Homo sapiens: one gene and its partners. The protein of the gene in region 1 interacts with the protein of each later gene in a pairwise test. Each region holds a gene or a part of one and is shown in the gene's direction. Other genes may lie near its edges.

Region 1 (7,034 bases):
CTCTGATGGGGAGTGGGGAGAAAGGTAGGAAAATAATAGATGATTGTTTAGGAAGACAGGCATACAAGTGGATCCATTCTACACAGTGCTTGTAGAAATAAAGTCTATTTGGGGTTTAAGCTGAAGAAAACTGCTCACTGAGACTGCCTGTTGCTATAGGTATTATACCCTTTTTGCAGTTGTTCTAATAATGTATTTGTGTATAACATTCCATATGTATTTAGAAGCATATCAGAACTACTCCTGAATAAGTGCAGAGAGTAAGCAAAACTAAGTGCAGAGAGTAAGCAGAACTCTATTGGAATGGTAGTTCCACATGTACATTAAGTATACAGACCATCAGAAATCTTTCAATATCTGCTGGCAATGTAGATCTATTACTTTGTGAACTTTGACTTTGAAATGTGGTTAGTCTTTTTGCGGGGCAAAGGACCTCTTTAATACATAAGCTGTGAAGAGAGATTTTTTTTTCTTGTAAACAGAAGCACATGGAGTCTTTCCTCTCCAGAAATCTTTGAGAAAAGCACATGCCTTAAGGAAGAGTATGTTTGCTGTGAATCACTGGAGGAAAACCACCCCGTTGAGGGAGTGACATATTCACATCAAAACTCAGTTTTGTAACTGGAAGAATTTTTTCTCAAATTCTGCTTTAGATTCTTTAAAGGAATGGGGTTATTTTATCTAATGGTGTAGTATGTTGAATATCCCTTTCAATGTGTGGTGTTTTTAAGGAGAATTTTCATATTCTAGTGGTTTTTACTTCTAGTTATGAAGTATTCTTTTTTCTTTTTGAATGTAGATTTCTCCTTCTCTTTGATTACCATCTACGATGGACCTGGAATTAATTATTAGATTTTGATTGAGCTGAACATTTTGATTTAAGCTATGTATAGATATATTAAGCTATATATATCTATTAAAAGCTATATATATAGCTTAAATTTAAATTCTAATTTAAGCTATATATGTGTGTGTATATATATATGTATATATACATACACTATTTAATTCATTTATTCTTCTCCTAAATTCCCTCTATGTTCTTCTCATACTCCTTCTCCCCATGAAAATACAGGAGGCATGAAGATCTTCCAACTGTTAGTGTATCTGAATCAGCAGTTTTAATCAGCCTAGCCAGCCTTTCAGGACGTGGGCTCAAGAGCTGAGGGAAGTTAAGGGTCACTGCCAAGGTGAAAAGCTAAAGTTACATTCTTGTGTTGTGGCTCCCTTCCCTACCCCCAACTTTTCCTCCAGGGGAGTGTCCTCGGACACCTTAGACTGTGGTGCGATGAGAAGAAAGATCTGTGGCTGTAGACTCTTCCTAGGTCTCCATCTGCCATCAAAATGAATATGTACACACATTCTTTTAAATGCTTTTAAAAGGAAAAAGAAATCGAAAACATGGTTAGGAATAAGAGAGAAGGATCAAATGGGAAAGTAGGATCTTCTTTCCTGTTTATTTCTTAGGGGGTGGGGGCGGAGCAAACAAGATAACTATAGGGGGAGAAGTTAGGAGATTTTGGAAAACTGCCTTTATTTTATTTTTTCCTCTTGCCCTGCGCCTCCTAGCATCTTTATGCTTGCCTCTGGGCTTTTCTGCTCCGGCTTGACTGGGTCCCGCAAAGTCCACTTCCTTTTTTTTTAATTTTTTTTTCCCCCAAAGAGAAGCACCTGCAAGTGTAATGGGTGTTACGGAACACTCGTCCAGGCCAGGATGAGAAACCCTCTGACTGTTGGCTAGGAAGAAAAGAAAAGCGGGAAATACTTAAAAACCATTTATGAAGTGTACCTGTGAATTGAAAAACAGGGTCTCATTTTAAGACAGCTTGATTTGAGGGTGAGGGGCTTGACTCAGTTGCATTTTAAAAAACAAAACCCAACCAAATAAAAAGGAATACGCATACAGGCACTAAGGTCTCTTCCAAACCCCACCCCAGGGCTGGCTCTTGGGGCTGGGATGCTGCTGGGGACCGGTCTTCCCAGCTCTTGGCCTGGCCGGTTTGCACGCAGTGCAGTTGCTGTGTGTGTGTTGCGGAGGGTTGCGGCAGCTGGCCCAGGACTGGGACCCTGGCCACAGCGGGTTCAAAGTAGGGGCAAAGATAGGGGGCAGCGGCTCCTTGCGGCCGCAATGGACTGCCGTCTCCTTGCACCAGGGGGTCGGAGCTGCAGCTGAGCCCAGCTTCTCGCCGCCTGCTGGGGACGGCTCTTTCCTTGGTCACTGTCAGGAAGCAGCTCACTAGGCAGCTCAGGAACCGCCCAGAGACAGCCACATCCCTTGCCTTTCCCTTGCCCAGCTCTTGGGCCACCACTCCCTCTCTGCTCTTCCTGAGCTTCACTACCCTCTCCTTCCCAAGGCAGGAGTCCCGAGGTGAGTTGACACCTTCTGCAAAAATCATGCAAACAAAAAATAGGATGCCAATATTGCATGGGACATACTTTCTCTAGAAAGCCTTCTTTGTTTATTTGATGGTCCCACTTAACTGGACATCCTGTTATTTTATCTGGCAACCATAGGCCTAGGCCTTCCTCACCCAGCCCCAGTACCCACGCAGGGCACCCCTTGGCGGTGGGGTCGCCTGTGCTCATCTCCTAGTTCTTTCTCTGCAGAGCCCGAGCTGCCTGGGACTGGCGTCAGGGAGGTGCTGGGGTCCATCCTGTGGATCTGGGACGGTTTGGCAGGAAAAACGAGAGTGTGTTCCACGTCTAGGAACCAGAGTTCTACTGCCATCTGGGAAAGAACCTCTCTCCACCTCCAAATCACTCCTTGGTGTTATAAATCTGGAGGATAGCCGTGCTCTCGACTTACACAACCAACTTTTCTTTTTCCCTGATGGATGAACTCCCGGGTTTAAAAGATTACAGTAATCACAGGAGGACAGTGTGAATCGAATCTGATAGCAATAACTTTCGGAGAAGGTCAGGCTCAAGTGAAATGTTACCAAGCAACAGGCATTTTGTTTGCAAAATACAATCAAAGAGCATTGATGAGAAATTCTTTGCTGCAGCCAGTCAGCACTTTCTGCTAACAGCTTTACAGAGAGAAAAGGAATAAATCTTCATAAATCAAAGTCCCTGGAGGACTCGGAGCCCTTTTCTGGAAATGTTGCACTTCTTCCTGACGGGAAGGAGGACTAAGCCCAGCAAAAAACCATGGGCCTGCCTGCCCTGCCTGCCCGCCTCCTCTTTCTTTCTCTTCCTTTCTTCCTCGCCTCTTGCTTTTTTCCTTTCTTCCCGCCTTTAAACCTGTTGCAGCCCCTTAGCCATTAGCTGCTCAGGTCCTTGGACCTCCTTGTCTAGTCCTGTGTGGCTCTGATGGCTTGTGCACGGGTGCTCATGGCAGAGGTGGAGGATGCAGTGATAGGACAGCTGGTCCTCACAGGTCCACCGCCTTGTGATTGTGTCAGTTACGTCCCACATCGCCTTAGTGAGTCATCCTCTTGCCTGAGCAATGCATACTACTGTTCTCAGAAGGGAAACTAAAATAACTAGGTATGGGGTTTTTTTGCATTTTATTGCATAAACAGCTATAAAAGGCACAATCAAGTACCAAGTAACAATAATAATAATGAAAAACTTAAGAGTCGGCACATCAATTCTTTACAAAATCTCCAATCTCTTGATTACAACAACTAGGCAGACATAAATTTTACAGAGCTGGGATTAGTGTTCCACGTTTTTCCCACTGATTATTACTTTGTTTAGTTCAGTATATATCTCTAGCACCCATAATCTTTATATGTAAGCATTTAAAACAATATTTCCTCCTGTGAAGACACCATGGTCTGCCCAGCTGCTATCCTTGGAATTATTTGCTGTATTTCACTGTGAAATATAACCAACTGCAGCTTACTTGGAATTTTGCAAAAGATTAGTTAGTAAACTGTATGCCTCTCAGTGGTCAAGAGGCAATGCTTTGATCATCTCTGTATGATCTTACCCAGCACAGTACATGAGAGCATAGTAAGGCATTTAGGGGCATTTGTTAAATAGATGGATGAGTTAGACAGGTGCATTTTGGAAGGTACCAAATAAACATGTAGATTTGTAGGTAATTTCCCCTCTGCTTCTTGGAAGGTATTCCCTTCTGAGTCAAGAAAGAGATCAAAACTAATTTTTTACAAAATATGTGAGGTCCACAGTTGCAAACCATACTTCCTTCAGCCCAGTCCTGTCTATAGCAATATTCCCCCAAAATATAGTGTCAAGGAACCACTCTGATTCCTTCATACGTTATTAATTCAGTGTTGTTAATGATTTTTTAAAAAGTAAAGCATGGCTAGTTTTTTTTTTTTTTTTAACTTTTCACAACCCTCCCCAACCCGGCAATCCACCCCAGGAAGAAAAGGAAAGTTTTTAGATCGAGATCATTCCCTGGTGTTCTTTAGATTTTCAACTATTCATTTTTTTAAAATAATTCATCACTTCTAGTGTGAGATGAAGGTAAGAGAAAATGTGAAGCGTTTGTCTACGATTAGAATTCTGATTAGGCAATGGTCTCCTGTAAAAGTCTCATCCTGCCTGGGCTCCCTCCCTTGCCATTGTTGTAAGATTTATGTGCTTTGAAAACTACCCATCAAGGACCTGTTATTTACAGGTGTGTTCCCCACAGCTCAAGTGAACAGATGAGGATATGACAATCTATGTTTCAAAATGCGTGACATGATTTCAAAAGGGATGGGGGAGTCCAGTGACTTTTGAGCTAGGAAATATTCCTCTCTGCTCGAGTTTTTCTGTGTTTTCATTCTGTATGTAAGAACTATTTTGTTTTCGTAGATATAATTGGATAGAATGGATATAACCTATGACATCTAAGTCAGAAAGATTTTTCACATTTTTTTTTTTTTATTTAGACAGTCTAATTCTGTCGCCGCAGCTGGAGTGCAGTGGTGAGATCTGCAGCTCACTGCAAGCTCTGCCTCCCGGGTTCACGCCATTCTCCTGCCTCAGCCTCCTGAGTAGCTGGGACTACAGGCACCTGCCACCATGCTCGGCTATTTTTTTTTGTATTTTTAGTAGAGATGAGGTTTCACCATGTTAGCCAGATGGTCTTGATCTCCTGACCTCGTGATCCACCTGCCTCGGCCTCCCAAAGTGCTGGGATTACAGGTGTGAGCCACCGCGCCCAGCCAGATTTTTCACTTTTATGCATCGTGAGCAGAATGTTTGTTTCTCATATGTGGTAGACTTTCTCAAAGTATTTGAAATAATACATTTTTTTTTTACTAAATTGCATTTTTATGTGAAAAACTCCCCTAAAGAAAGTTACATTTTCAAACTGTAATTTTAGATTGAAAGCACTTTTGTGAGTGTTTATTTTCTCTCTTTAAAGTCTTGTAGCAAAAAAAGAAAAAAAAGTATTGTAGTCATCTTATGGCATATATATTTTGAAGTCGGTAGCATTGTTATCTGTAGAAAAACTTTTCTTTTTAATTGAATATCTACTTCTTTTAAAAACCTCTTTACCCTAGTGCACAGTTTATTTCAGGGATAGCTATAAGTGTTTCTACCCCATGAAATATGAAATGGAAGAGAGAATATTAAGATTTTAAAAATATGTACATGTTTAGCAATAGAAACAGCATATTGTATCACTTTCAGTAATATTTGTCATATTCGATAAAATTGATTTCTTCCCTGTTTAATAGCTTTGACTTTCTATACCCATCTACCGGGGTAAAAATATTATCAGTTGATATACACTCTTAATGTTCTAGGAATTAGGGTTTCAGTTTCAAGAAGAAAGAAGGTAAAATGTTTCAGGAGTATTTCCTATTTTATTTTGTTAGTTGGCAGTTTCACATTTCTATGTCTAGAAAGGCCTTTATGTTTTAAACCAACTAGAATGATTTGTAAAGTTTATTTAAGAACAAATCTGGAGATGTAAAGAAGTACCTGTTATTAAATTACACTTTATCACTGGGCTCAAAACTCACCCTCTATAATTACCTGTGAAAGTCTGTATTTATAATAGAATAATTTACAATATATTTAGTTTAGGTGCAATAATACAACCAGTACTAGACACCATAGCGCCACAAAATTGCAGGAACTATATATCCTGCCCTTCAGAAATTATTGTTTGGTGAGGAGTTATTCTTGGTGCAAAGTTAGAGGCTAGTCTTCCTTTGCCTAGTTTTGAAACTCCAACAGCCTTACATGTTGATGGGGATTTGGCTCACCCAGCACTACTTAGCAGGACCTTGTGTGCGGCTCAGGTGCATAAGCCTCACAGGTGTGCTCTGCTTGTTCTTTCATCATCTTTGTCTTTCCTTTGAACACAGTGTAAGCAGTGCTGAGCTCAGCTGGTTGGTTGGTTTACGCTGAATTTGTAGATTTGATTCCTGTGACATTGTGTTAGCTTTTCTCATATTTTGGCTATAGCCAGACGGCACAGAGACCTGCGGAGAGAGCATGGAGGATTCGGTGTAATCTATCACCACTCCTTGACAAGTAACCAGAAGTGCATGATGCACTAGCATGTCCCAGTAGCAGGGGCAAAGGGTAACACAACAAAATGAGAAAGTGACTTTCACAGTCTGAGAGTTCACAATTGCTGAACAAGCTGGCACTGACATAAGATTCCACTACCGTCTGTTCCGCAGAACTTAGGAAAATAGGTACAAGAGTGGAATTTTATATTGTCAGACTTGTAATCCTGGTATCAAGTATTCAGTTGATTGGGACAGTATATCTGTTGCTACCTTGAAAAAAAAAAGCCTCCATTTTTGTAATGGTAGAGTCATTATGTTAGTGAGAACCTCATTCCCTAATTCCCCTTTCAGTTAGCCTTCTGCTGTTTGATCCACTTTTTTTCTGGAGACTGAAGTGTACTGTGGAAGAGTCAATTTGGTTGACAGACCTGAGAAAACACTTCCTAATATGTTTTCAGTGTTTGAAACTTATCTAAAGTGGGGGCAGGGGATGTACCTTTTAAAACACAAAGCTATTTGGTTCATATATTTCTTTTAAAAATAGTTGAGCTGGCCGGGCGTGGTGGCTGACTCCTGTAATCCCAGCACTTTGGGAGGCTGAGG
Region 2 (7,034 bases), on another chromosome or scaffold:
AATTTCACTGAAGGATGTCAGTCTTCCTTTTTTCAGTGAATTAGAGACATCGGTGCAAAGAATATGAATTATTAATCATCTTAATTCAGCTAGTTAGCAAGCTGTATCACATTTATTAAAATCACTTTTATTTCTATGGGTTTAGTTTCACCATTTATTAGGAGGAAAGGAAGCAAATTTGTGAGGGAGCTCTGGGTTGTCAGGAAAGGCTTTTCAGAGTAGTAAAGCAATCAAATGAGAATAACTGATTCAGTATTTGTTTCCTTTGTCTCTTTGGTTTACTTTTTAGTTTTGTAGAACACTTGATCACTACCATCTCACTTGGTCCTAGTTGATGTATCATCTACATTTTTATTCAAGGTTTAATATAAAATGCTATAAAAGGCTATCCTAAACTGGTTTTAAGCATATTTGTTTTGTTTGTTCAGCATAAAATACACAAGAGGATTTTTATGGAATGGCTCCTTGTTACAAGGTACTTTGCATTTATAATCAGCCACAGTCACCTCAGTTTCATCCCGTATCTTACAAGTATGATGTGCTGTATACTCAAAGCCTCACCACCTGCTTGCCCCACCCATTTGCTTAAATGTATCAATTTTTTCTAAGCTTAACTTTTACCAAAACTGGAGTTCAACAGATGAATATTTTTCCTTCTTAGATGTTAACTAAACATTTTTAAAGGTACAAAATTTATGTACAAACATAACCCAAATGACATGGAAGTTACTTGATTTGTGACTTACCTCTGTAATGTTCCCCTGGCCTACTTGAAATTCCTACCTTTCCTCTAGTCTAGTATCTTATTCTCAGTTATTCGGAGGAAGTTAGGGACCTAGAATTCTTGTTTTCAGAGCAGTAGAATTTTGCTAACATAATTCAAAACATTTATCCCTATCTTGGGGCTTGAAGAGAATGTGAAATGCTTTATCTTCTGTTTTGAGGGAATGAGGGAAGGAGCTTGTTCTTAGGCAATTAACAAGTAAATTTAAATAAATAATCCAAATCTGGTGTGGGTAAACAAATTTTAGTTTTAGGAACTTTCAAAATTAAGTATGCTTCCCCTTTGGGTTCCAGATTTTACAGTAATACTTTTTGAAAGCAGTAAGATAAAAATTTCAGGACCTCAAGAGATGGGTCAAAAGAGTTTCACTGTAATATGAATTTTGAAGCCAGAACTGGAAATCCCCTGTGCTGTGTCTTCCTCTTCGTGGTAGTAGAGGTTACAGTTATCAAATAGTCCAGAGAAGCAATGGGAACTTATGATTTCTGATAGAAAAATTTTAACAGAGATGTACTTGTATGCAAATAATATATGATGCCTCAGTTTCCTCCAAAGTCTTAGTTAACAGAGTTAGAAAAAATCAGATTATATTTGAAGTTCTGTGTTCATACTGGAGTAATTATTATTCCAATGGTACAATATACAACATAACTTTATTACATTTTTTGGTACAGCATAAAGATGATTTTCCCTTTCTCTGAGTATTTCTGAAATTTAAAATGAAATAAGTGTGGTAGAAGCCATTATTTATGAATTATCATGCTAAATTAATTAACTCATTAATTCATTCAGGGCACACCCAGTTATTCCCCAAACTGAGTGATGTATTTCTGGGAATAGACTTATTAAGCTTGAGAAAACCCAAAGGATCATTATAACAGCAAACAGGAATGTAGGCATCCACATAGTGGATGACTTTAGTGACCTGGCACACAGTGCCTTATCTACTTGGCACATGTACAGGTACAAGGAACACTTAACATTTTGCACCAGAGCTTATTACATACCACTTTCAATGCTTGAGATATTATATAAATGCTAAAATTCTAAAACCTATAGTAAAGCAAAGACCCAGATTTTATACTGCAGTAGTTTTGCCAGTAAGTCTCATCCTCACTAACTTATCTTTTAAGATTAAAAATAATGTAACCAAGTGGGAAGAAAAAGAGCAAATATGAACAAATTGTCATTGTTTTAGAATCTGCTTCTTTTCCTTTCCGGTATTTCTGTGCAAGGAGAGAATGATCTCTGACCTTGTGAAAGGCAAATACCATGTGTATTCATGGTTGTTATTCATTTGGCAACGACTTGAAACTCATGACACTCCCTGCTGAAGATCCTCCACCTATTCTTAACAGCTGGGCTCCCCAGCTCCTGGATCACCAACCAGTACCAGTCTGTGGCCTGTTAGGAACTGGGCTTGTACAGCAGGAGCTGAGCAGCTGGAGAGTGAGCAAAGTTTCATCTGTATTGACAGCTGCTCCCCATCGCTCACATACATTACCACCTGAGCTCAACCTCCTGTCAGATCAGCAGTGGCATTAGATTCTCATAGGAGCAAGAACCCTATTGTGAACTGCATGTGTGAGGGATCTAGGTTGCGCACTCCTTATGAGAATCTAATGCCTGATGATCGGTCACTGTCTCCCATCACCCCCACATGGGACTGTCTAGTTGCGGGAAAACAAGCTCAGGGCTCCCACTGATTCTACCTTATAATGAATTGTATAATCCTTTTGTTATATATTACAATGTAATAATAATAGAAATAAAGTGCACAATAAATGTAATGCGCTTGAATCATCCCAAAACCATCCCCTGCTTCACTGGTCCATGTCTTCCACAAAACCGGTCCCTGGTGCCAAAAAGGTTGGGGACCACTGTTTACCAGGATGCATAGCATGGGTTTATGAATTCCCTATCTTTGCAGCACATCCTTTATTTCTGGCTTGCATGGGACTTGAAAGCCTAAAACAACTAAATGCTAAGAAAAATTATTTTTAAAATGATGACAAAAATATTTTCTATTTCAGATGTATAGATCTGCAATCCAGAAACTATGAATTTTTTTCAGTTGAGTAGTCTGTTTGCCAAAAAATAAAAAAAAATAAAAAATAAAAACTTGCCTAAGTTTCTTCTCTTACATTTTATTTAGGATTTGCCCTTAGACATTATTTAGTGCTTTTCTGACCCTGTAGGGACGGTGAGAATAATTGAAACACTAGTTTCTTAAAATTTCTGTTAAAATTGGTTAAAGGCCATAGAATTTTTTTTTTAAGCTAAGCATGTTATAGAGAGGTATCCTATAAGAAGCAAGGGGCAGGTAAAGACTTTAGAGATGTATAGTCCAGTGTGTTAATTAAAGGATACTACCTACTTCTAATTCGGTATGTATTAATCTTTTCTGATATATCTGTTAAAGTACTCTTCGCATATTTTTAAAAAATTGGCATTTTAAAGTATAGTCTTTGATGGTAGAAATGTGAGATTGACAAAAATCATGTCCTCTTATGTATGAATTTAGTCTTACACAGTTCTTCATATGATGGAATCTAAAACAAATGTAGTCTTGAAAACTTTTAGTCTACTTTGGTTACATGTGTTTATTATTGCTCACCTTATAGATTAACAGCAGAAAAGTATAAATTTTAATATTTCTACCTTTCTGGCTTGAGGTCTACAGCATTAATTTCTGACCAGTTAATGCAAACTGAGATTCCTATTGTCCTAAGAAAATCTGGGAAGTTAGTAACACAAACACATCTTTTGATTTATTTCAGGACCACATAAACCCATTTTGAATTATTCAACCATTGCTGAACTTCTTGAGTATGTATAATTAAGAGTTGACTATAATTGGAATGTTCTTAAGACTTTAAGTTGATTATAAAATTTTGTGCTTAAAGTTGGCAATAATCAAAACAAAACAAACAAACAAAAAAAACCCTTTATTTTAAAACACAGTCTTGCTCTGTCACCCAGGCTGGAATGCAGTGATGACATCATACTTCATTAGACCGTCAATATTCCAGGCTCAAGCAATCCTCCCACCTCAACCTCCCGAGTAGTTGGGACTACAAGCGCATGCCACCATGCTTGGCTAATTTTTTTTTAGTAGAGACAGTGTCTGTCCATGTTGCCCAGGCTGATCTCAAACTTCTGGACTCAAGTGATCCTCCTGCCTCAGCTTCCCAAAATACTGGCATTATAGGCATAAGCCACCATCCCTGGCCAAAAAATAATTCTGAAACAGCAAGGAGGAAGGCGGTTTCTTCTTGGGAAGTCTTGATTTTAGTTGAGCATGTAGAGGGATCACTTGACTTATTAACCACTTAGGATTGCACAGTAAGATAATTTAAAGGGTAGCCAGCACTGGAGTGGGCCTGGGAAGGGGATGGGCAGTTTGTGTTAGTGTGTGTGGGTCCAAGATAAAAATGTTGGGTAGCAGAGTTTTGCCTAATGCATTGTCGCTAAAAGGGATGAAGGGCATCGGGATCTACAGGAGATGGAAAAAGTAGTGACAGGATAGTAGTGGGAAAAACTAGGATCGGATCAAGGCACTGGAAGGCAGAAATATTGAGTAGAATGTTTGCTGCAATTTATGTTTCTGTATAAATACCGAGTACAAAGTTTCACTTGGGTGGTCAAGGTGCTATGGCTGTGACAACTCCTGAGAGTGGGTTTTCTGGTTAAAAAAAAAAAAAAATCTCTGAATGCACGGAGTCGTCTCAGGCCTTCTCAAATTTGCAAAGAACAGGTCCACAAGACCTACATTTCCCAAGATAATTGCAGTAGTGTGACCTGATAATTAACATTTTTTGCTTTCCTGCTGGAACATTCCTGGGGCCCAGAGACTGGGCCAAGCATTTCCAGTCCAAAGACTGGGAACTGAACCAAGCATTTCCTTTAGATTGTTCAAGTTGTGAAGGTTGATGTTATTAGCTTGGTTACTACTTGGAGTCTTAGCTCATAGTGTGTCTTTATGGCTTTCTGCCTCACTGGACCCTCTTCCCAAAAGGCTTTAGAATGTGTTCACCATCATGAGCTGACCAACAATTTCTAAATTCCTACTCAGAAACACAGCAAGGGGAATGCAGTCAAGCACAAAGGGCTTAAATGACCAGATAAGGCTGGGCTGGATGAATAAAGAGGAATATCCTATGAATGTGACTGTGTAGTTTTAGAGTATCCCGATTCAACTGTTATATTTGACTTGTGGCCTTGTAGACAGTGTGTTAATGTCAGATCTTCTTTTTCAGAACTGTTTTAATCATGGACAAACAAAGTAAGTAATTTATTTTAAATGTTTACTTTCCTCCTTATAATGTTAATCTGTTGGTAACTTGTTATTTGTCATAATGTTTTATTCAGTGTCTGAAAGTGTATAATTTGTTTTCTGTTGTTTATGCTCCAGAATACAATGTCTAGTTCAGTATTTTGACTATAGAGAAGATGTACAAAAATAGCACTATCACTAGGTTCTTCATTAAAAATACGAAAGCCTTTTGGAAAGCTAAGAAATGCTAGATTTATTGGGAAATATGTTCTGTAACATATATTTAAACCACAACAATATTCTCTTTGTGTATTTTATATGTATAAAGATTATTCAAGTCATACTAATTAACAGATAATAAGATTTGAGTTCATTGTAATAAACTCCTCAGATACACACCTCAATGTATATTTCATCACAGACACATGTTTGTATTTTAAGTAAATACCAGTCATTATGTTCTGGCTTTTTTTCTCTCAAGAAAATTCTAAGTAAGATGGATATTTATCAAGCAAGTAATAAAAGACTGTCTTATTAAGATATCAAGGTTCTGAAGAACAGAGGGAAAATTATGTTCAAAATTCCCACTACATAGGGAAAATTAAATTCAAAAATTAAATCCTGTTTTTCTGAAACGCTTTTCTTTATTCTCTCTTTCATCTTTGTTGAGGTAACAAAAAAATATTTATCTGTCACTACAGTGTCACCCTTATTAGATATATGAAATAATCTCCAGGACTAGACTCCTTGCTTTTCCCATGTGAAGTTTTATGATTTTCTTTTTACTTACAAAACTCAAAGCTTTTTAAATGTAAATTTATATAGAATTATACTGGTTTATTTGCCACAGACTTTAAGTTGATTCCACTCAATTTACAAAAATGTATCTGGTGATGGTCATAGGCAACTTTTAACTCTTCAGTTTTGTATATATAATTGTATGTATGTATGAATGTATTTGCATAAATAGAAATAAAATGTGTATATGTGTGTGAATAAATGTGTAAATATGTATATATACATACATGTAGACATAAAAAAAAGTACCTTTAAGACAATGTGATAGACTTGTACTTCTTATAAGCCATTTTAAGTTGCATTTCAAAAACGCAGTAATCAAACCATAATTAACATGCTCTTTGTTCTGCTTGAACACCTGCCCATTCACTCATTCTCCTTGTATGAATTCCCCCTGGAATGCCTGAAATCAGAATCATTGCTTTGGTACCAAAAGCCCAGAGATTGTGAGCTCATGATTTCTTGAGTCTGTCTGTTCCTGTATATGTGTGTGTGTGTGTGTTCTATGTTATAGTATTCAAACAATGTTGCTTATTAAGAGGTATCACAATGTGACATACCTGTCAAGGGTAGATCTTTACTTCAGACTTGCAAAATATTTTCTTGAAATCTATTCTGAGTCTGATGCTGTGTTTCCAACTTAATTTGGGAGTAGGGGCTGCAGGCAGGGCCTTATTAGCTAGAGAACTAGGGAGTTAGGTCAGTCACTTGATGCTGAGAAATAGAAGAGAATGGATGGGAAAGAATGATGGGGAGTTTCAGAGATTTGTGATGATTCACAAATCACAAGGTATGTTGCAATGTTTGTCCAGGGAAAAGTCCTCATTTGTTTTTTGTTGTTGTTTTGTGTTATTTATTTATTTATTTATTTATTTGAGATGGAGTCTCGCTCTGTCGCCCAGGCTGGAGTGCAGTGGCACGATCTCGGCTCACTGCAACCTCCGCCTCCCGGGTTTAAGTGATTCTCCTGCCTCAGCCTCCTGAGTTGCTGGGACTACAGGCGCGTGCCACCATGCCTGGCTAATTTTTGTATTTTTAGTAGAGATGGGGTTTCATTTTGTTGGCCAGGCTAGTCTTGAACGAGTAGGAGAGCGGTTTTTTTGCCTGATTTTACACAATCACCATGGACTGGATTCCGCTGAAGTCATCATGAAGCTATTTATGAAGGAGAAAGGC
Region 3 (7,034 bases), about 140 Mb from region 1:
CCGGTCCTGCGCCTCACTCTCTCCCCTCCCCTGGCCACTGAAGGGGAGTCGGTGTGGTTTTCCCTGGGGGTGTCTGGCTGGGGGATGGGGCAGATAGAGCCAGCTGTGAGCAGAGTCTCTTCAGCATCTGCTCAGGGGCCAGCATGTAGGTGACGGCCTTGGGGAGGGGCAGGTGCCAATTCTGTTAGCAGGGCTGGGACTGAGGGACACGGCTTTCGGGTGGCCGGAGGTAGTAGGAGTTGCAGTGCTGGCTTGGGAACTGGCCTTGGTGATGGCACCCCAGCCACCACGGAGGGTCTGAGGGTTCAGTCTGTTGACGAGGACTGGGCAAGGGAGAGGCATTCTAGGTCCTGCCCCGCCTTTGGCCAAGCTGTCCTGAAGGTGGACAAATGGTCTGGCCTGAGTAGGACCCCTGAGCCCACAAGGCCTCAAGGTAAGGAGGAGAGAGCCCAGGGCCTGAAGACCCCCACCTGTCCTTGGATTCCTGCCTCTGCTCAGACCCCGTGGCCGTCTCAGGGATAAGACCTGCCCCCCCAGTCCCCCGCCTCTGTCAGGTTCCAGCCTCCTCATGGGCCACAGGTGGCTGGAGAAGCTGGGAGCCCAGCTGAGAAGGACGCCGGGGGCTTGGGAAGTTTGAGGAAAGGAGCCAGGCTAGGGGAACGTGGTCCATGCCTCCCAAGCCCCACGACCTGGGGAGCGGCATCCCCCAGGCCCCACGTGGCCCTGACCCCGTCAGACCTGGGGCCCTGTTCGCACCTTGGCCAGTCAGGTGAGGGAGAGCACAGAGGGCCCGGCAGACGTGGGGCTGGCATGGTGAGGACTCTGAGCCCCCCCCCCCCGCTGCCCCATGCTGGCACCGTGGGCTGGTGCCAGGGAGGCTGGGGAGGGGGCCAGGTGGGGTCGGGTGGAGCAGAGGAGGCACAGGGGCCTGGAGAACCGGTAGGCGGCCAGGGGCCACCACTGCGCAGAATTCCAGCTTTGCCCAGCCCTGGGCCAGGCCTGGGGGAAGAGGTGCTGGGCTGGGGGCACTCACACACTCTGGACGCCATTCCTCTTTCCATTCACAAACGTGCCTGGCGCTCCCGAGTGAGCCCGGTCCTGGGGCAGAGCAGCCCCCGCTGGGAACTGGATAAACGTTTGCAGAGGAGTTGGCGGGTGACTGACGGGAGGGCAATGCCGCTGGTCCCAGTCCCTGGAGGAGCACGTTGGACGGGATTACCCCAGGGCTCCCCGCCCCGCTGCTGACGAGGCTGACCCAGCCTCTGAGCTGTCCTTGATCCCTTGATCCACGTCAGGGATTGGGGAGGCCCCCGAGCACCTGCTGGAGGACTGGCAGTCCCCCGCCGAGCTTTAAACCCACCATCCTGGAGGTCAGAGGGCAGGGAAGCCTAAGGCCAGCCCACCCCCCAGGACCCGTGGCCATGGTGGGGCGAGGGCTGGCTTGGGGGAGGAGGGCCTGGGGCCTGGCGATGCCATCCCCTGCTGGGGAGGGCCCGCCTCTGGCCCTGAGCTTGGCGGAGAAGGCCGTGTGCAAGGTGGTGTATGGCGCCCCCCGCCCCCGCCCGCTGCTGCTGCCCGTGGGCCTGGAGCTGTGGCTCTACGTGCAGAAGATGCGAAACCTGCAGAGGAAGAGGTGCGGCGGGCAGCGAGTGGGGTGGTCACGTGGGTGTGGGTGCCAGGGCGTGGTTGGAGGCTGTCTTGGGATGAGTGGAGGGGACACCCACCTGGTGCAGCTGCAGGTGGCTGGCTGCATTGCCTGGATCCCAGATTGGAGGTGCAGAATGACAGAGGCCCATCCGTGCACCCATCCCCGACTTTTAGGCCCAGGCCCTTCCCAGGCCAGAAGCCTCCTTCGCCTTGAGCCTCGGATGCCACGTCTCCGGCTGGAAGGGAGGCGGGAGGTGGCTCCCATCATCAGATCTGCGGAGCAGCAGCGTCTGGGCTCCACAGACACCCAGGCCTCAGGCCTGAAGCCCCTCTCCTCCGATGTTGCCTGGAAGGAGGGGGCAGTAAACCGAGTGAGACCACTTGAAAAGTGGCTGGGTGGGGCAAGTGGGCCTTAATCAGGAAGCCCCGTGCGTGGCGCTGGCTGCAGGATGGGGCTTGGCTGGTTGTCATGGCGACGGTGGGCTCCTGTGACCCACGTGGCATCCGGATGGCCATTCCCAGAGGGATGGGTGAGGTGGCTGTGAGGTGCCTGGCAGGTAGTGGGTGGGAGGGCCTGGCCCTGAGGTGAGAGGATCACTTGAGCTCAGGAGTTTGAGACCAGCCTGGGCAACATAGTGAGACCCCCATCTCTACCAAAAAAAAAAAAAAAAAAAAAAAGCTGGGCATGATGGTGCAAACCTGAAGTCCCAGATACTTGGGAGGCTGAGGTAGGAGGATGGCTTGATCCTGGGAGATGGAGGCTGTAGTGAGCCGAGATCGCACCACTGCACTCCAGCCTGGGCAACAGAGCAAGACCGTGTCTCTATAAAAATAATAATGGTAACATAAGTTTTAAAAATGAAAAATGAAAGCAACAGAAAGCAAACAGGAATGATGGGGCCGGCCTGCAAGCAGCCGAGGCTGAACCCTTCCCCCACTTCTCTGAAATCAGGTCCCTCCTGGGCTCCAGCTGTGCCTGCCACCTCCTGGGGCCCCCCAAGCTGCGCCCTTGCTGAGTCTTTTGTGGCTCTCCGGGGGCACCCTGCAGATGGGGGCCCGCCTGCTCACACTGGCCACCCCATGGCATCTGCTGGGTGTGTCCTCCCCCCGCGACCCTCCACCCAGGGCAGCGCAGCAGCCTGAGGCCCATGTGACCTGTAAGAGTAGGATGGAGGAGGACACCAGGCCCCAGAGCAGGCAGCAGGGAGGTGCGGAGCCGGGCAGCCACGGAGTGACCCCACACTCCTCCCCGGCAGCTGAGTGCCAAGGGCAGCTCCCCAAGGCCCAGGGTGGGGGTCCCTCGGTGAGCAGGGCTAGGGTGGCAGCTGACGCACAGGGTGCTTGGGGGTTGTGCAGGGCCCAGGGTGAGGGGTTTCTTCTCTAAAGTCCCTGCCCGAAGGTGGGGGACCACGGCCAAGCAGGGCGTTGGTGTTCAGAAGAGGGCCTGGCCCTTGGGGTTAGGTGGCGCTCACACGGCGGAGTTCACCTTGGGATGGGGCGCCATCCACATCTTCCCACAGCAGCGCTGGGGGTGGCGGGCAGCACCTGGGAACAGCGGGTTCTCAGGCCTGTCCTGGCTGGCAGCGGCGAGCGCTTAGCTCTGTGGGTGGGGGACCAGGAGGAGAGGGGCTGGGACTGGCTAACCCGCAGCCACACCTCCGCAGCACTGGTCTCCCCTGGAGACTTGGAGGCTGACTGAATCCCCAGGCCCTGGCTGGGAGAGCTTGGGGGTGGGGGAGGAGCCGAGATCAGATCCCCACCCCACCCGACCCCCATGTGGCCTTCACAAGCCCCCACTACCGTCTGGGAGCCTCAGTTGTTCTTGGTGGGAATTAGGGGGGCCTCTCCCAGCAGCTGTGGTCGCTCAGGAGGATGGCTAGGGTGCCTGGCCCCTGCAGCCCGTACCTCTGGGATTTGGGTGAAGGCAGGGTATGGGGGCCACACCCCCTGCAACACCGGCCCCTGGGCCTGAGGGTCTTGCCGGGGTCACAAACTCACACCTTTGCCCCAGTGGCGTTCCTGACCTTGGCCGCACAAGGGGTGGACAGGAGGTGCTGGCAGAGGTGTGCTGGCTGGGGCGCCCTTGGGCCGCACACGTGCTTCCAGGCCTGTATCCCAAAGAGACACTTAGGTCTGTGAGCACAGATGTGGTGTGTGCCCTAGCCCACCCAGGGGCGTCGTCTGTAGTGAAGCCACGGAGGTGCTCCGGCCCCGGGGCGACTTTGCCAGGGCTGGGCCATGACGCCAAGTTCCTCTGCACAGGATGGAGGCGTCCTGCCTAGAGCTGGCGCTGGAGGGCGAGCGTCTGTGCAAGGCGGGCGACTTCAAGACAGGCGTGGCCTTCTTTGAGGCTGCTGTGCAGGTGGGCACCGAGGACCTGAAGACACTGAGTGCCATCTACAGCCAGCTGGGCAACGCCTACTTCTACCTGAAGGAGCACGGCCGGGCGCTGGAATACCACAAGCATGACCTCCTGCTGGCGCGGTGAGTGGGGACGGTCCTGCTGGCGGGTGAGTGGGGCGGCCCTGCTGGCGCGGTGAGTGGGGACGGCCCTGCTGGTGGGTGAGTGGGGCGGCCCTGCTGGCGCGGTGAGTGGGGACAGCCCTGCTGGTGGGTGAGTGGGGATGGCCCTGCTGGCGGGTGAGTGGGGACGGCCCTGCTGGAGCAGTGAGTGGGGCGGCCCTGCTGGCGGGTGAGTGGGGGTGGCCCTGCTGGCAGGTGGACGCTTCCTGTCCTCAGCAGTTACAGTTTGAGGAGGGGGACAGGGCAAGCAGGGTCTAAGGGAACGCAGTGGGGAAGCCCTCACCTGGAGGGCAGCCAGGGCTCTGGGACCCCGGCAGGGAGCTGGGTTTCAGCTGACAGGCGTGAGTGGGTCTGTGTGTCTGCGTGTGAGAGCCTGGGCTGTGACCCGCGTGCTGTGCGTGAGCACTCGTGACTGTGTGTGGCCCATCTGTGATCCTGTGTGGCTCAGAGCCCCACCCTTTCCCTGGCCCCAGGCCCCAGGCCCTGAGCCCCGGGCCCACTCCCAGCCACTGCTCAGTGAGGTGTGGTCCTGCCCTGGGGGCTGTCCCTGCTTTCCCATGGACCCCAAGCTCCCACTCACAGCCTCCTTCCTGCCTGGCGTCATCCACTCCCCAGTCTCCCCAACCTACTCCCCGCCGCCCCTTGGGGTCTTGGGGTCTCCAGTCGGGTCCAGCCCCCAGGCCGTGCCTCACGGGAGCACGCTTCCCTTGCCTCAGCCCTGCCCAGCGCCCTCCCCCTCAGCCCTGCAGCTGCCCTGACCTCTCAGCAGGGCAGAGCTTCTTGGAGCAACCCTCCCGCACTGGCCAGTGAGCTCACACCTGCTCCTCAGCACCCAGCTCAGTGTCTGGTGGGCATGCACCAAACGTCCTCTGAATGAGTTAGCAGGAAGTTAGTTCTCCACCATCAGGCCCCCCAAGTCCTCCCCGGATCCTAAGAGCTGCAGACCCCAGCCCCCTGCCCCAGGCCCAGGCGTGAGGTCCTGTGTGTAGCTCCTGGCACCTGTGTGCAGCCTGTGTGGTGATGGGCAGGAGCCTGTGCCCCAGACACAGCCCAGCAGAGCCCATACCCAGGGCTGCCCTCGGGCCTCACTTGCCCGGCCTGTGGGCCCCTGCCCAGTATCACCTCAGGGGTTGCAGGCTCCTGTCCACTCCATGCTGGTCCCTGAGGCCCAGCTACCCCACCCCATGCTCAGCCTCCCCCCGGGCCCAGAGGCCTGACCAGTCCTCAGCCTGACCCCTCACTCCTCCCTGCCATCCAGGACCATCGGTGACCGCATGGGGGAGGCCAAGGCCAGTGGAAACCTGGGAAACACACTCAAGGTCCTGGGGCGCTTCGACGAGGCTGCCGTCTGCTGCCAGCGGCATCTGAGCATCGCCCAAGAGCAGGGAGACAAGGTGGGGGCTTGGTCCGGGGCTGGGTGTCTCCCACCCCTGCACCGGCCTGCGTCCAGATCCGGGATAGGGGCGGGCGGGTGACTCACCACTCATCCAGCTCCTCATGGGAGGGATGACAGGGAGGTCGGTCCCCTAGATCCCGAGTGACTCAGGAGAGTGTGGGCCCCCAAAACAGGCCCCCCCAGCCCATGCTGACACTGCAGCCCAGGCCCCCACCTTCCACCCTCAGTTCTGCCGCCCCTCTCGGTGACCTCCCCCCGAATCCCTCCACACCCCCAGTCACTCACTCCCTGGGGGGCCCAGCGGGAGGCAGGGGGTGGCTCTGGGCTGCGGCAGTGGGAGGCCGATTTCAATGGCGGTGGTGACAGCAGGAAGAGTGGCTCCGTCTCCGCTTGTGCTGGACCCGAGACAGGCTTTGCTGACCTCCCTCCATGGCCCTGTGAGGCGAGAAAACCAAGGCTGGGGGGACGTGACTTACCCCCCGTCACACAGCTGGAGGTGACCAAGGGGGCTTGAGGCCGCAGCATCTGGTCCCAGCTGGAGCTTTCAGCCTCGGTCATCAGAGGACAGAGCTGAGGACCTGGCACCCTGGCCACGCCAATCCGCAGAGGAGGGAGGGATGGTGAGGGAGGGCGGAGGCTGGCTTCCCGGGTGTGCCGTCCTCAGGCTTCCGCCCCTGCCTTAGTGTCTGTGACTCAGTGGGAGCCCCCAAGGCCCTCGCTGTCGAGGGCTGGGACAGTGAGGACACCGGTGTGCCGGCTCTGCACATCGTGTGGGGGGCCGTGGAGGCATGCCCCCAACCCTCCGTACTGCCCACAGGTTGGGGAGGCGAGGGCCCTCTACAACATCGGGAACGTGTACCACGCCAAAGGCAAGCAACTGTCCTGGAACGCCGCAAACGCCACGCAGGACCCCGGGCACCTGCCGCCCGATGTCCGAGAGACCCTGTGCAAGGCCTCCGAGTTCTACGAGTGAGTGGGGCAGGGCCAGCCCAGGGACCGGGGCTGGCCTGTGCGTTTCTGAGCTCCACAGACACTTCCAGACCCCCGACCCCAGCCCCATACCTCCCGACAGCTCCCAGGGCAGTGACGGCCAGGTCCGCCCACCCCCGCTTTCTCAGCTGCTGGCTCCCTCCCCTGAGCTTGCCCCTGTCAGGGACTTGGGGGACATGACCAAGCCCCAGGTCTCAGAGCTCGAGGACCCTGGAGCCTACCCTAGCCACCCTCTTTCCAGGGCATGGCCCTGAGGCCGCATGGAGGCCGCTACTCAGCTCTTCTAGCCTGGGGTGGGTGAGGACATGGGCTGGGAGGGACACGGCTCAGAGGCACTCGGCCCCCAGGAGGAACCTGTCCCTGGTGAAGGAGCTGGGCGACCGTGCGGCGCAGGGCAGGGCCTACGGCAACCTGGGCAACACCCACTATTTGTTGGGGAACTTCACAGAGGCCACGACCTTCCACAAGGAGGTGAGCC

The links.
Region 2: the proteins of DMRT3 (region 1) and PLSCR1 interact in binary tests that used the Homo sapiens proteins (3 or more experiments, as listed by UniProt).
Region 3: the proteins of DMRT3 (region 1) and GPSM1 interact in binary tests that used the Homo sapiens proteins (3 or more experiments, as listed by UniProt).

Annotation. Positions count from the first base shown.
Region 1 is NC_000009.12:979,629-986,662, forward strand, and holds part of DMRT3 (doublesex- and mab-3-related transcription factor 3), read left to right. Parts: intron 1-7,034. UniProt on the Homo sapiens protein: Probable transcription factor that plays a role in configuring the spinal circuits controlling stride in vertebrates.
Region 2 is NC_000003.12:146,534,575-146,541,608, reverse strand, and holds part of PLSCR1 (phospholipid scramblase 1), read left to right. Parts: intron 1-428; exon of another isoform or gene 429-452; coding exon of another isoform or gene 453-475; exon of another isoform or gene 476-2,857; intron 2,858-3,564; exon of another isoform or gene 3,565-3,613; intron 3,614-5,043; coding exon of another isoform or gene 5,044-5,056; coding exon 5,057-5,069; intron 5,070-7,034. UniProt on the Homo sapiens protein: Catalyzes calcium-induced ATP-independent rapid bidirectional and non-specific movement of phospholipids (lipid scrambling or lipid flip-flop) between the inner and outer leaflet of the plasma membrane resulting in collapse of the phospholipid asymmetry which leads to phosphatidylserine externalization on the cell surface.
Region 3 is NC_000009.12:136,330,538-136,337,571, forward strand, and holds part of GPSM1 (G-protein-signaling modulator 1), read left to right. Parts: intron 1-3,909; coding exon 3,910-4,131; intron 4,132-5,428; coding exon 5,429-5,564; intron 5,565-6,383; coding exon 6,384-6,535; intron 6,536-6,903; coding exon 6,904-7,027; intron 7,028-7,034. UniProt on the Homo sapiens protein: Guanine nucleotide dissociation inhibitor (GDI) which functions as a receptor-independent activator of heterotrimeric G-protein signaling.